Homo sapiens: one gene and its partners. The protein of the gene in region 3 purifies or fractionates together with the protein of the main gene of each other region. This does not show direct contact. Each region holds a gene or a part of one and is shown on either strand. Other genes may lie near its edges. The genes, in order: ZNF512, ZNF346 and ZNF485.

Region 1 (2,828 bases), on a different chromosome or scaffold from region 3:
GAGGTACACCCACTCAAAAGTTCTAACCTGCAAGTGGCATTCATCACTCCACTCACATTCCATGGGAGAGGAGTTAGCTGGCTTCTCCTTCACTAGAGAGAGTGGAGGGAAGGGGGATAACTAGGAAATATACAGTCTAGCCATTTGTTCTATAATCCCATAATTTGCAAAGGTGAAAGTAGATCTCTGATACTTGTTTTCAGTATTTCTCTACTGTAAACTGTACTGCAATAATCATTCTTTTTTGTGTCTCTTGGTACGCCTAGACAAAAGGAGTTACTCTGTGTATACCCAGGAGAGAAACTGCTAAGTCTTCGGGTACATATCTTCAACTCTGCTAGATACTGCCAAATCACTTTTGAAGTGATTGTACCAATTTGCATTCCAAACCATGTATGAAAGTTCATAATACTGTCAAACTTAGTTTGTTAGTCTAATGAATTTTTTTTAAAAAAACTTTAAAACTCAATACTGTGATTAGAATAGTCTATACTGAGTCCTGCTGATCCCTGGTCTTGGTCAGGAAAAACGAAAGGAATGCCTGCAAGAGGTCCCTGGATGAAACTGGGCAAGTTTCCTATACTAATTCACTTTAATCTCAAACTACTCATTTTAACCAGCATAATTCATGAACCAAAGAATTACTGAGACAACTGCATGTGGAATTTATTTCAAACTCACCCCCATCTCTAGCCATCTTCTTACCCCCATACAGTGTCAAGGAGTCATGCAGCAGGTCGGCGTCAAAGAACACTGGAAACATCTTTCTGAGAGTCATTTATTTCTTTTGTCATTGCCAAACATTCCCCAGGTCTTACTCACCAGAAATTAACATAGCTTCTTCATTTCTCCTCCCTGACAACCCTCATCTACTGAAAGGGCTTTAAGGGCACACTGCCAATGAAAATGCAGAGTGCATATACCATGTCCTTAACTTGTTTCAAAACTACCTATTCTGGCAGTATCCAATTCAGGTTTCAGTGCTCCCTTGTTTGAAAGTGGTCTTCACAAAAGCCCACATTTTAAAGCTATTTGGAGGAGCACAAAGAGTTAAAGTGGTAATAGCCTTTCAGAATTTGAAAAGGTAGTACTTGTCTATATCAGGTTCATTTTTTATGTGGCATATGCCACAAAATAGGCAAGAATATATAAGACCAATATTTACGCAAAATGGGGAAGAGAATCCAGAAACACGACAACAAAGCTGCTCTAACCAATGTTCCAGAGAAAGCCACCCTCAAAGAGAAATAACCCATTAAACATTACCAGATAGGCATGAGGTACAGAAAAAGAATTTTTCTTTCCAGCTCCAGATAAATATCTACATCTGGTGTCAAAGTCTCAGGATATAAAGAGGAGAGAACTCCATATATAAAAGAGGATAGGACAATATTCTCAGAAAATTCAAAAAGACAGAGGTTGGCTAAGGGGATGGGTGGAAACAGTGGGGCGTAGACTAACAAGTAAGGTAAAGTCCAGGGAGAAGGAATGCGCACCTTGGTTTTCCCTTAGTGGCACTACCAGGAGCACTAGGAGACTGTCAAAACATCAGGGGCAATGTGATATTTCTCAATTCTTAAAACCAAAGAAGCAAAAATAAGCTTCAGAGGGCAAGTGATCATAGCTATGGATGAGGCCTCGGGCTCCAGGAAAGTTGGGGCAGTATTTATTGCTGCTTCTACTTTCTCTTTCCTGTCATTTTAATGTTTGGGTCACTTTACTCCTAAGGTTGCTTTTCATGTCTGTGGGTCTAGTCACTGCTACTTGGTACAAAGCATTTCCCAGTATAAACAGCATAGGGTAGTTCTAGAGTTTTCATCCTAAATCCGTTTTCTTACTTTCAATCTTAAAACCATATTGAGAGGACAAACAGCCTCCATAAAGTTTTTTTCCCAAGGAGACAGAGTAATCTTATTATGTGAATGACAACAGTTCTAACTTCTAGACTTGTTATATCACAAATACAAAATGACAAATCAGTTATGGTTTTAAAAAATTAGTTTGGAATGGTTTCACAAGCTAGATGATGGAGCAGCTACTAAATCAATGGAGCTTCCAAGAACATTCTATACCCCAGGAAGGAAAGGACAACCAAAGAGGTTTCTTAGTTTTGTACAGGGCAAGAGGAGCCTATAGTTGGCCTTGAGAGGGAGCTCTTTGGGCAAGATAAAAAAACAAGAGGACTTGACGAGGAATAGCAGGAAAACCTACTAAAAGGGGAGGGGGGAATCAAAATGTAAGAAGGGAAGACAGTGAAATTTACACAGGAGGAAGGAGCTGAGAAAGTCACAGCCTTACACAAACAGCTGAAAGAATCTTCACTCAGTCCTCCCAGCACAGGTCCCCGTGACAACAGCATCACATCTGCTTTCCTAGGAGCACTTTTACACTGACTGCCTATTTCCTTCCTCGTTTATGATTAGTCTTTGGGGGCTTTACTTTCTGGAACTGTGCTGGCACTGGCTCCTGCTCTGGTTCCTTACAGGAGGCTGACACTACCAGTTCCTCATTATTCCTCCTCTGATCCTTCCCTACTCTAAGACTCAGCTCTGTCTCGGGAAGCTCAATGCCAGGCTGCTGCCGCCTTCTTAGAGACCTTCTGCTCCTGTGCTGCTGCCTCCGCTTTTCTTCTTCTTGCTGCCGCTGCTTTATCTTCATCAGCTTTTCAAAGCTTTTGGTTGTTGTTGGGTTTACAACGAACCAGTCCTAGAGAGGCAAAATAGAAATGTCATCCAGTCGAAAATATAGTGAAGAACATAAAGAAAGGTGGAGGAAGAATGGAAAAAAGGCATGATTAGGGCAGAACACAGTAAGAAGGAAACAGATAT
Region 2 (3,652 bases), on a different chromosome or scaffold from region 3:
CCTCAGCCTCCCAAAGTGCTGGGATTACAAGTGTGAGCCACTGCGCCCAGCCGCCTGGCTGATTTTTTAAAAAATTTTTCGTAGAGACAGGGTCTCGCTTTGTTGCCCAGGCTGGTCTCAAATTCCTGGTCTCAAGTGATCCTCCCACCTCAGGCTCCCAAAGTACCAGGATTACAGGTATGAGCCACCACACCTGGCCCTTTTCTCACAATTTATAATTCAGAAAGGCAAGATAAACTCTATGACCCTGGGCAAGTTATTTTACATATTTGCACCCTATTCAGAGATCAGGCTTTCTGAGAGAGATGCTGGGATCCCTTTATGTAGTCTTGAAATACATGGTTTCCTAGCCTAATCATAATCAACAAGTAGAACGCAATGGGAGGCTGGGTGCGGTGGCTCATACCTGTAATCCTAGCAATTTAGGTGGCTGAGGCAGGCGGATTGCTTGAGCTTGGGAATTCGAGACCACCCTAGGCAATATGGTGAAACCCCGTCTCTATAAAAAATACAAAAATTAGCCGGGTGTGGTGGCATATTCCTGTAGTCTGGCTACTTGCAGGGGTGGGTGGGAGAATTGCTTGAGCCCTGGAGGTGGAGGTTGCAGTGAGCCGAGATCGTGCCACTGCACTCCAGCCTGGGCAACAGAGTGAGACCCTGTCTTAAAAAAAAAAAACCTAATGGTCCACTTGTTCAGCAAACTCTGAGCATCTACTGTGTGCCAGACTCCAGCTGGGTGTGAAGGATAAGAAACAAAAATGAGTCAAATAGTCCGTGTTCCAATGTCACACTTGAGTTCACAGAAAAGTCTCCTAAGCTATGACACTGTCAGTTTAGGGTGGCAAGTGGTATGACAGAGGTCTATTTAATGTACTCTGGGAGCACAGAAGAGGAGCAGGGTTAATTCTTCCTGGAATACACAAAGGGACTTGACAGTTGTTTACTGAATGATGTTTTTTTTTTTTTGAGAGAAAGTCCCCCAGAGGAAAAGCTTATATTTAAATTGGGTCTTGAAGGCTAAGCAGACACGCTGCCAAGCAGGAAAGGAAGGAAGCACATTTTAGACAGCAGGAATGGCCAAAGCAAAGCAAGGAAGCATCAGAGAATAAAGTGGGGGATGGTGAGTAGAGTCTGGGACAAAGTAGCTGGAGAAGAATCTAGAAAGTAGGTTGGGGTTAATGTGTGAGGGGGGCCATAAATGCCTGTTCTGTTATGGGCAGTGGGGAACCATTGAAGATTTTCTGGTGGGGCAGTGGTATGATCAGACCTGTGTTCTTTCTTCCAACCAGAAGAGCAGCAGAAGCAAAGACAAGAACCAGTGCTGCCCCATCTGTAACATGACCTTTTCCTCCCCTGTCGTGGCCCAGTCGCACTACCTGGGGAAGACCCACGCAAAGAACTTAAAGCTGAAGCAGCAGTCCACTAAGGTGGAAGGTACTGGTTTTCCTGAGTAGTGCTATAGTGGGACCCCTGCCGTCCTCAGGGCACTACTGCCAGGGGCTCACAGAGATCCTCACTGAGGCCACAGACTTGAAGAAGTTGAATTGCTTTTGAGAACCCTTAAAAATCTCCAAGTAGACCCAGCTTCACTGAAATGCAATCTCAGAATTATGCTCACCTAACCTCCCTTTCTTTGGTTATAGGTTTTTCTCTATAGGCTGAGCTTTTGTCCTGACTAATAATTATAACTCAGGAGTGCCAAAGTCCTCCAGGCCACGCATACCATGAGAGCATTCTATCTCCTACCTCTCCCACTAGATTTTTCCATCCCAGCATCCACCTGCCCTTATTACTGCATGTTCCAAGTTGAAAGCTAAATCCTTGTCTTTTTCACATGCTCAGGTTATGGCCTACTCACTTTAATCCTCAAAAGCTGCCTGTTCTCCTCAAGACAGGGACTTGCCTTTCAAAGCTGAATACTTCAGTGCTGCTACTACTGCCCCACAATCTGTAACTGCCATGAATTCATTCCCAGTACAGTGACTTCTGAAATAGCCCCCTTTATCTCGTCACGACTAGGGCTCAGCCCTCACTTTCATCTCATTAACTCCTGACTTTCTGGGGTTTTAACCTCTGCTAATTGCAATTAGTCAAGAGTGAAAGTTCTTTGATGTTTATTTCATTGTTTTCTTGATAATTTTTGCTTCTCTATTTTGGACCAAGAAGTAGACTACACTATTAGTAATACTATTATCCTTTTTGTGTTTACTGACAACTGTGTTTTGGAAGCCTTCAAAGGTAGGGTGAAAAATCACTCATAATTTTTTTTTTTTGAGATGGAGTCTCGCTCTGTTGCCTAGGTTAGAGTGCAGTGGCATGATCTCGGCTCACTGCAAGCTCTACCTCCCAGGTTCATGCCATTCTTCAGCCTCAGCCTCCCAAGTAGCTGGGACTACAGGTGCCCACCACCATGCCCAGCTAATTTTTTTGTATTTTTTAGTAGAAACGGGGTTTCACTGTGTTAGCCAGGATGGTCTCAAACTCCTGACCTCGTGATCCACCTGCCTCGGCCTCCCAAAGTGTTAGGAATACAGGCATAAGCCACCACGCCGGCCAAAACCTTTTTTTTTAAATAGAGATGGCTTCTCACTATATTGCTCAGGCTGGTCTTGAACTCCTGGCCTTAAGTGATACTCCCATCTCAGCTTCCCAGAGTGCTGGGATTACAGGCATGAGCCACCACACCTGGCCACTCATAATTACACCTTTTTATCACACCCACATCTAGTTATTCATGGTATGAAACAGCAGAATGTGGACTTTGAAGTCACAGAGTCCCAGGTTTAAAGCCTGGCACTGTTACTGTTTATATGACTTTTTTGTGTCTGAACTGCCTAACCTATAAAATGATAATAATACTGTCTACTTCATCGGTTGTGAGGATACAATAATGTGTATTAAAAACACAGGACATAGGCCGGGCATGGTGGCTCATGCCTGTTGTAATCCCAGCACTTTGGGAGGCTGAGGTGGGCAGATCACTTGAAGTCAGGAGTTCAAGACCAGCCTGGTCAACACGGTGAAACCCAATCTCTACTAAAAATAACAAAAATTAGCTGGGTGTGGTGGCACGAGCCTGTAGTCCCAGCTTCTTGGGAGACTGAGGCAAGAGAATCGCTTGAACCCGGGAGCTGGAGGTTGCAGTGAGCTGAGATCGCACCATTGTACACCAGCCTGGGGGACAGAGCAAGACCTCGTCTCAAAAAAAAAAAAAAAAAAACCAATTTTATAAGGTCACAGACTTCTCTTCCCACAAATGGGAAAATTCTCTGCATTATGCCTTGTCCCTGAAATTTCATACTCGAGATTATTTTCCATATTCACTTTCAGCTTTTGCCACATACTTTGTTTTTATATAGTTGTGATCATAATGCAGGTACCCTTTATATCCCGCTTTTACTTTTCATTTAATTTTACAGCTTAAGCACATTTCCATGTTATTACACAACTTTATAACTATATTTCTGAAATTAAACACTTTTTAATGTAAAGTAATATAATCATGTTGTAAGAGATAAGGAAAACATGGATAAATGGAAAGAAAAGTTACCCATAATTTTACCATTCACAGATAAACACTGTTAACATTTTGGTTTCTCCTATAATCTGTTTCTCCTATAATCTTATTGTTATATGTATCTTTGTATATCTG
Region 3 (4,424 bases):
CCCATTCCAGAGGGTCTTGAACTGCTCAGGAACTGGGAATTCATTAAAGTCACCGCCTTCTGTAGGAATGAGGACATTCATCTCAGAAGATTTGGCACTGGCTATTTCACAATCCAGGGAATTCTTGCTCAGGTAAGCATGGCAGCCATCTGTTTTGTTGATGGAAATGGTTGGCACTTTACTCATCACCTGAACTTTGACATCCCTACTGTTGATTATCTCCACAATGCCCACCATATCATCGAATACCAGACCAAGTTTCTTACAATTATCTACTGTAATGGAGTTAATTTTGCCCTTGATTTGCAACATCGTGTTGACACACTTGTATATGTAAGCCGCCTGTTTCAGCTCTGTGTCATCAATCACCAGATTGGAAACATTTTCCTGATTTTCCACTCTCCACTTCTTGCCCTCCAGTTCAAGTACAGCTGGCTCCTTCTTTGTGGCTGGTTTGGGGTTTAGGTGCAGAGAATGGCTTGGGGCCACTGCGTACTGGACCACTCTGAGCCTTCAGGGTAGGGTTCTTGTGAGTCTTCATGTCATCAGATACACGTTTCAGGGCATGTGTGATGCTCTCCCCCTGATTAATCTGCGCAAACAGTGCTGAGAGGGAAGCGGACTCATCTGAGCCTGAACTGACAGAGACTAGTGGAGGAGGGGGGCCTGGTGGTGGGGGAGGAGTAGCTGATCCAGCAGAGGGTCCAGATGGCAGTCCACTCAGTTCTTTTGTCACAGGCCCCGTTTTGCTCCAGGCAGTCCGGTGGTATGGAACTCCTTAATGTAAGCCTGCAGCTCTGTGCATATACTTAAATAAGCTTTGACTCAGTCTACATGCTTCTTATCCACATCTTTGTACTCTTTAAGGACTCAGTTTGTATAAAACACAGCAGCATGATTCATTTCTTTCACATAAGGGCCAGGATTGGGAGCCATAGCCACCCAGCCTAGGGCCTGGATACTTTCACTGACAGCTGACAGCTGATTAAACAACTTGCTGCCTCGGTTCTTCTCCCAAAAGGTTATCACTTCTTTGATCTGCTCTGAGATAGGTGCCAACAGATCGGAAAGCTTATTACCTGCCGGCTATTGACACTGAGAAGCTGTAACCAAGAGAGCTCACTCCAACTTCAAAACTGTGTGTACCATCTCCACATCTTTCTGCACGTCTTCCCCAATCTCTTTACTGATCTTCAAGTACTCTGCCACAGGGCAGGCAAGCAGCGAGTCAAATGCCTGCGCATATGGAGCTGCTCCTGCTTTTGAAGGACTATCTCCATATCCACGGTGCATGTCAGAGGTATGGGATACTGCCTCCAGGCGGCCCACTGCCCTGTCCAATTTTTTACCAGATTTTGCATGTCAGTCATAATGTATCACCTCCCGACTGCGATCAGCCGCTCTCCACTTCCCGCACCTTCACTTTTCAAAGATTCCCAGGTGATGCCAACCTGCTCTGCGGATGGAGCCCCTAAGACCCCAAGCGGCCCAGACTACGTTTCCCAGAGGCCTCCGCGGCCTCAGCCACTTCCGCTTCCGGTCCAGCCTGTCTCCGCGTGGTGCGAGCGCTGCACCAGCCCCTGGCTGGTGGTTACTGTCCGAACGGCGTGGTGTGGTCGCTGACTCTCTGGGCGTGCAGCTCCGCAGCCCTGCCGGCTCGGTTCGGTTCGTGAGCGGCCGGGGTCAGGCTGGGTCCCTGAAGCCTCGAGCCCCTGGCGGGTGCTCCCCGCCTTTCCCAGGGGCGGGTCGAGGGGCGAGCCGGGGTGGGAGGGGAAGGCGGCGGTGGGCAGTGCCCACCCGCAGTGGCTGCGCCGTGTGGAGCGACCGCTCGAGGCTGGTGCATCACAGAGCGCTCCAGCCTTGCGCCCCGGCCGACAGATTGGGCCACTGACAAGGCCGTCCCCCGGTGCTGCCAAAAGTGTTTGGCGTGGAGCTGGCTGCAGTCCAGGCCGGATCCCAGCAGCCGTTCCCTTTCCTTTCTTCCCGAGCGTACCCACCTGGACCTGTCTGCCCACCTGTGGAGGGAACGGGCGGGCGGGGACCTGGTCTAGAGGGCAGATTCTAGCTAGGCTAGGGCACGGAGGGACTTCCTCAATTTCCTCTCTTCTTTCCCAGATTGACTTACGCAGGATTCTCAGCCCTTGCCTGGGAGAACAGTTCAGGAGACAGATGGCCCCAAGAGCCCAGATCCAGGCAAGTTTGATTTTTCCATTTCTTGAGAAACCACGTGTTTCAGCGAGGTGGGGTTTATGCCTCTTGCCCGGACAATGCCCTGCCCTGTGTGTGGACAAAGCTACCCGAACCAATCCTGGATGGGTCCCGCGATTTCCGTCCTGTCTACCCATTACGTAGTCATTCACCAAGTAGATTATTGCTACCCATGTTTTCTAGAGTGCTAGAAACAGAAAAGTGCTTTGCAAACTGGCAGACGATGAAAAAAATACACGTTAGCATGTAAAGACGTAGGCCATAAAGACATAGGGTGATAGCAGTGCTCTCTTGACCTTTAGTGTGTGGTAGGGTGGGAGGGGTGGAGTAGTGGGCGCCTTAGTTCTTCCTGAAGAATAAATGAGATTTGCATAATTGCAGAGGATACTAGGGGAAAGCGCTGCCTGAATGAAGTCATTATGGCGGGACCATGAACAAACTGGTCTGAGAAAGTTGGAAACATTCATGGTCTAGAATCCCAGACTGGAGTTTGCTTTTATCCTGGAGAAAACTAGGTTTTGAAGGATTTTGAGAAGCTGATTAAATAATTGGTATTTTGAAAGGAAGTGATAAACATTTGAGTGTCTATTATACAAATAAAATTAAAAAAATTAAAGATCACCTACATTTCTACTGCTCTAAGTCAAGTAATTTCATTTGAAACACACTTTTCATTTTTTTAAGGCTTACTCATTTTTTCTTTTAGTATTTCATAGCCATTCCAATTTGTTCTAGTTTCATTACCACTTTTTGTGGCTTCCTTTTATACTGTGCCTTCAACCAGCCCTGGGACCTTGAGCAAGTTCTTCCAACTCTCTGAACCTTTGTGTCTTTAGCTACGAAATAGATTTTACTTTATATAGTTACGGCAGAAATTTAGAGAGATGATATGTATCTCAGGGTTTAGCACCGTGGCTGGTACATAGTAAGTTGTTACTCTTATGAAAAGCAATTTTTTTTTCTTTTTTAAAAATATTCTGCCCCAGAGTCAGATCATACTCCCTGTAAATTCTCGGATAAAGCTAATCACTTTCCATGTCTTTTCAAAGTTTCTATTCATTTGTTGATTGAATAAAGCTTGAACACTTCTGTGTCAGGCAGTGTTTTTGACTGGGAGGCAGCAGTGACCCACACTGTCCCCCTGGAGCTCACATTAGAGAGGATGCTGACAGTCAGTGCAAACCTCTCCTGCCAGGTGGTGAGAAATCCTGTGAAGAAAAGTGAAATGGGTTTCGAGACTGAGTGGCAGAGGATGGGGTGGAGAAATAGAAGACCTTTTTGATGAGGTGACATGAAGGGTGGAGTGAGCAGAGGCTAGGCCTGGAGGAGGGAGCAGGACAGGCATGCAGGAAGAACCTGCTCAAGGGAGGAGTCGCACATCCCCTGAGCCCTCAGCTTTTACTTGTTGGTTTCCATGAGCACTGTTGGAACTGTCAGAAGCTGGCTTTGACCACCTTGCTTCCTTCTCTTGGGATGCCTCCCTCAGGGGTTCCCGGATGAGCAGAATTGGGTTTGGTTTTGCAGGGACCGCTGACATTTGGGGATGTGGCTGTGGCCTTTACCCGGATTGAGTGGAGACACCTGGATGCTGCTCAGCGGGCCCTGTACAGGGATGTGATGCTGGAGAACTATGGGAATCTGGTGTCTGTGGGTGAGGATGGCTTTCTCCTTGACTCAGGATTGGTCTGCTGGGCAACTTTGTGTTTTCACAGGGTGAATGGTTTGGGGTATTGAAAAAATCTTAAATGATGTGCTTTTTGTTTTGTTTTTCTTAAGTATGGGCTTAGAGGCTGGAGTTTATGCCCCTTACACCCCTCAAGAAAGGTCAGAGCCATACAGAGTTAAGATGGGTAGCTTTGTGGTGCCAACTAGCCCAGTTCTGGAATGTTTCTGTGTCATGATTCATCTGCCTCCCAAAATAGGAGTTTCTCGTCCTCCAGGAGGACCTGGTTTTCTAGTTGACTTTGCCCCCTCCCTTTGCTTTACTTCATGAGTTGGACATCCTGGGTGCCACCCTCTAGGCCTCTCTGACCTGTCCATGCTCATTGCAGATGCTCAAGTTGACACTGAGGTCTGGAGTGACTGCTTGTGCTTGTAACCGCCATCACATTCCTTTTCATTCATTTTTTTTTTCTTCCTCTAAGATCCTTTTTCTTTATGAACAGGGCTTCTCTCTTCCAAACCAAAACTAATTACTCAGTTGGAGCAAGGGGCAG

What was found.
Region 1: the proteins of ZNF485 (region 3) and ZNF512 purify together in Homo sapiens (affinity purification with mass spectrometry; one large-scale study listed by BioGRID and IntAct). This does not show direct contact.
Region 2: the proteins of ZNF485 (region 3) and ZNF346 purify together in Homo sapiens (affinity purification with mass spectrometry; one large-scale study listed by BioGRID and IntAct). This does not show direct contact.

The regions. Positions count from the first base shown.
Region 1 is NC_000002.12:27,621,031-27,623,858, reverse strand, and holds the end of ZNF512 (zinc finger protein 512), read right to left. Parts: intron 2,707-2,828; coding exon 2,398-2,706; 3' UTR 642-2,397; downstream 1-641. UniProt on the Homo sapiens protein: May be involved in transcriptional regulation.
Region 2 is NC_000005.10:177,043,100-177,046,751, forward strand, and holds part of ZNF346 (zinc finger protein 346), read left to right. Parts: intron 1-627; exon of another isoform or gene 628-1,117; coding exon of another isoform or gene 1,118-1,120; intron 1,121-1,289; coding exon 1,290-1,434; intron 1,435-3,652.
Region 3 is NC_000010.11:43,604,882-43,609,305, forward strand, and holds the start of ZNF485 (zinc finger protein 485), read left to right. Parts: upstream 1-1,556; 5' UTR 1,557-1,665; exon of another isoform or gene 1,666-1,682; intron 1,683-2,115; 5' UTR 2,116-2,169; coding exon 2,170-2,193; intron 2,194-3,732; coding exon 3,733-3,859; intron 3,860-4,352; exon of another isoform or gene 4,353-4,373; coding exon 4,374-4,424. UniProt on the Homo sapiens protein: May be involved in transcriptional regulation.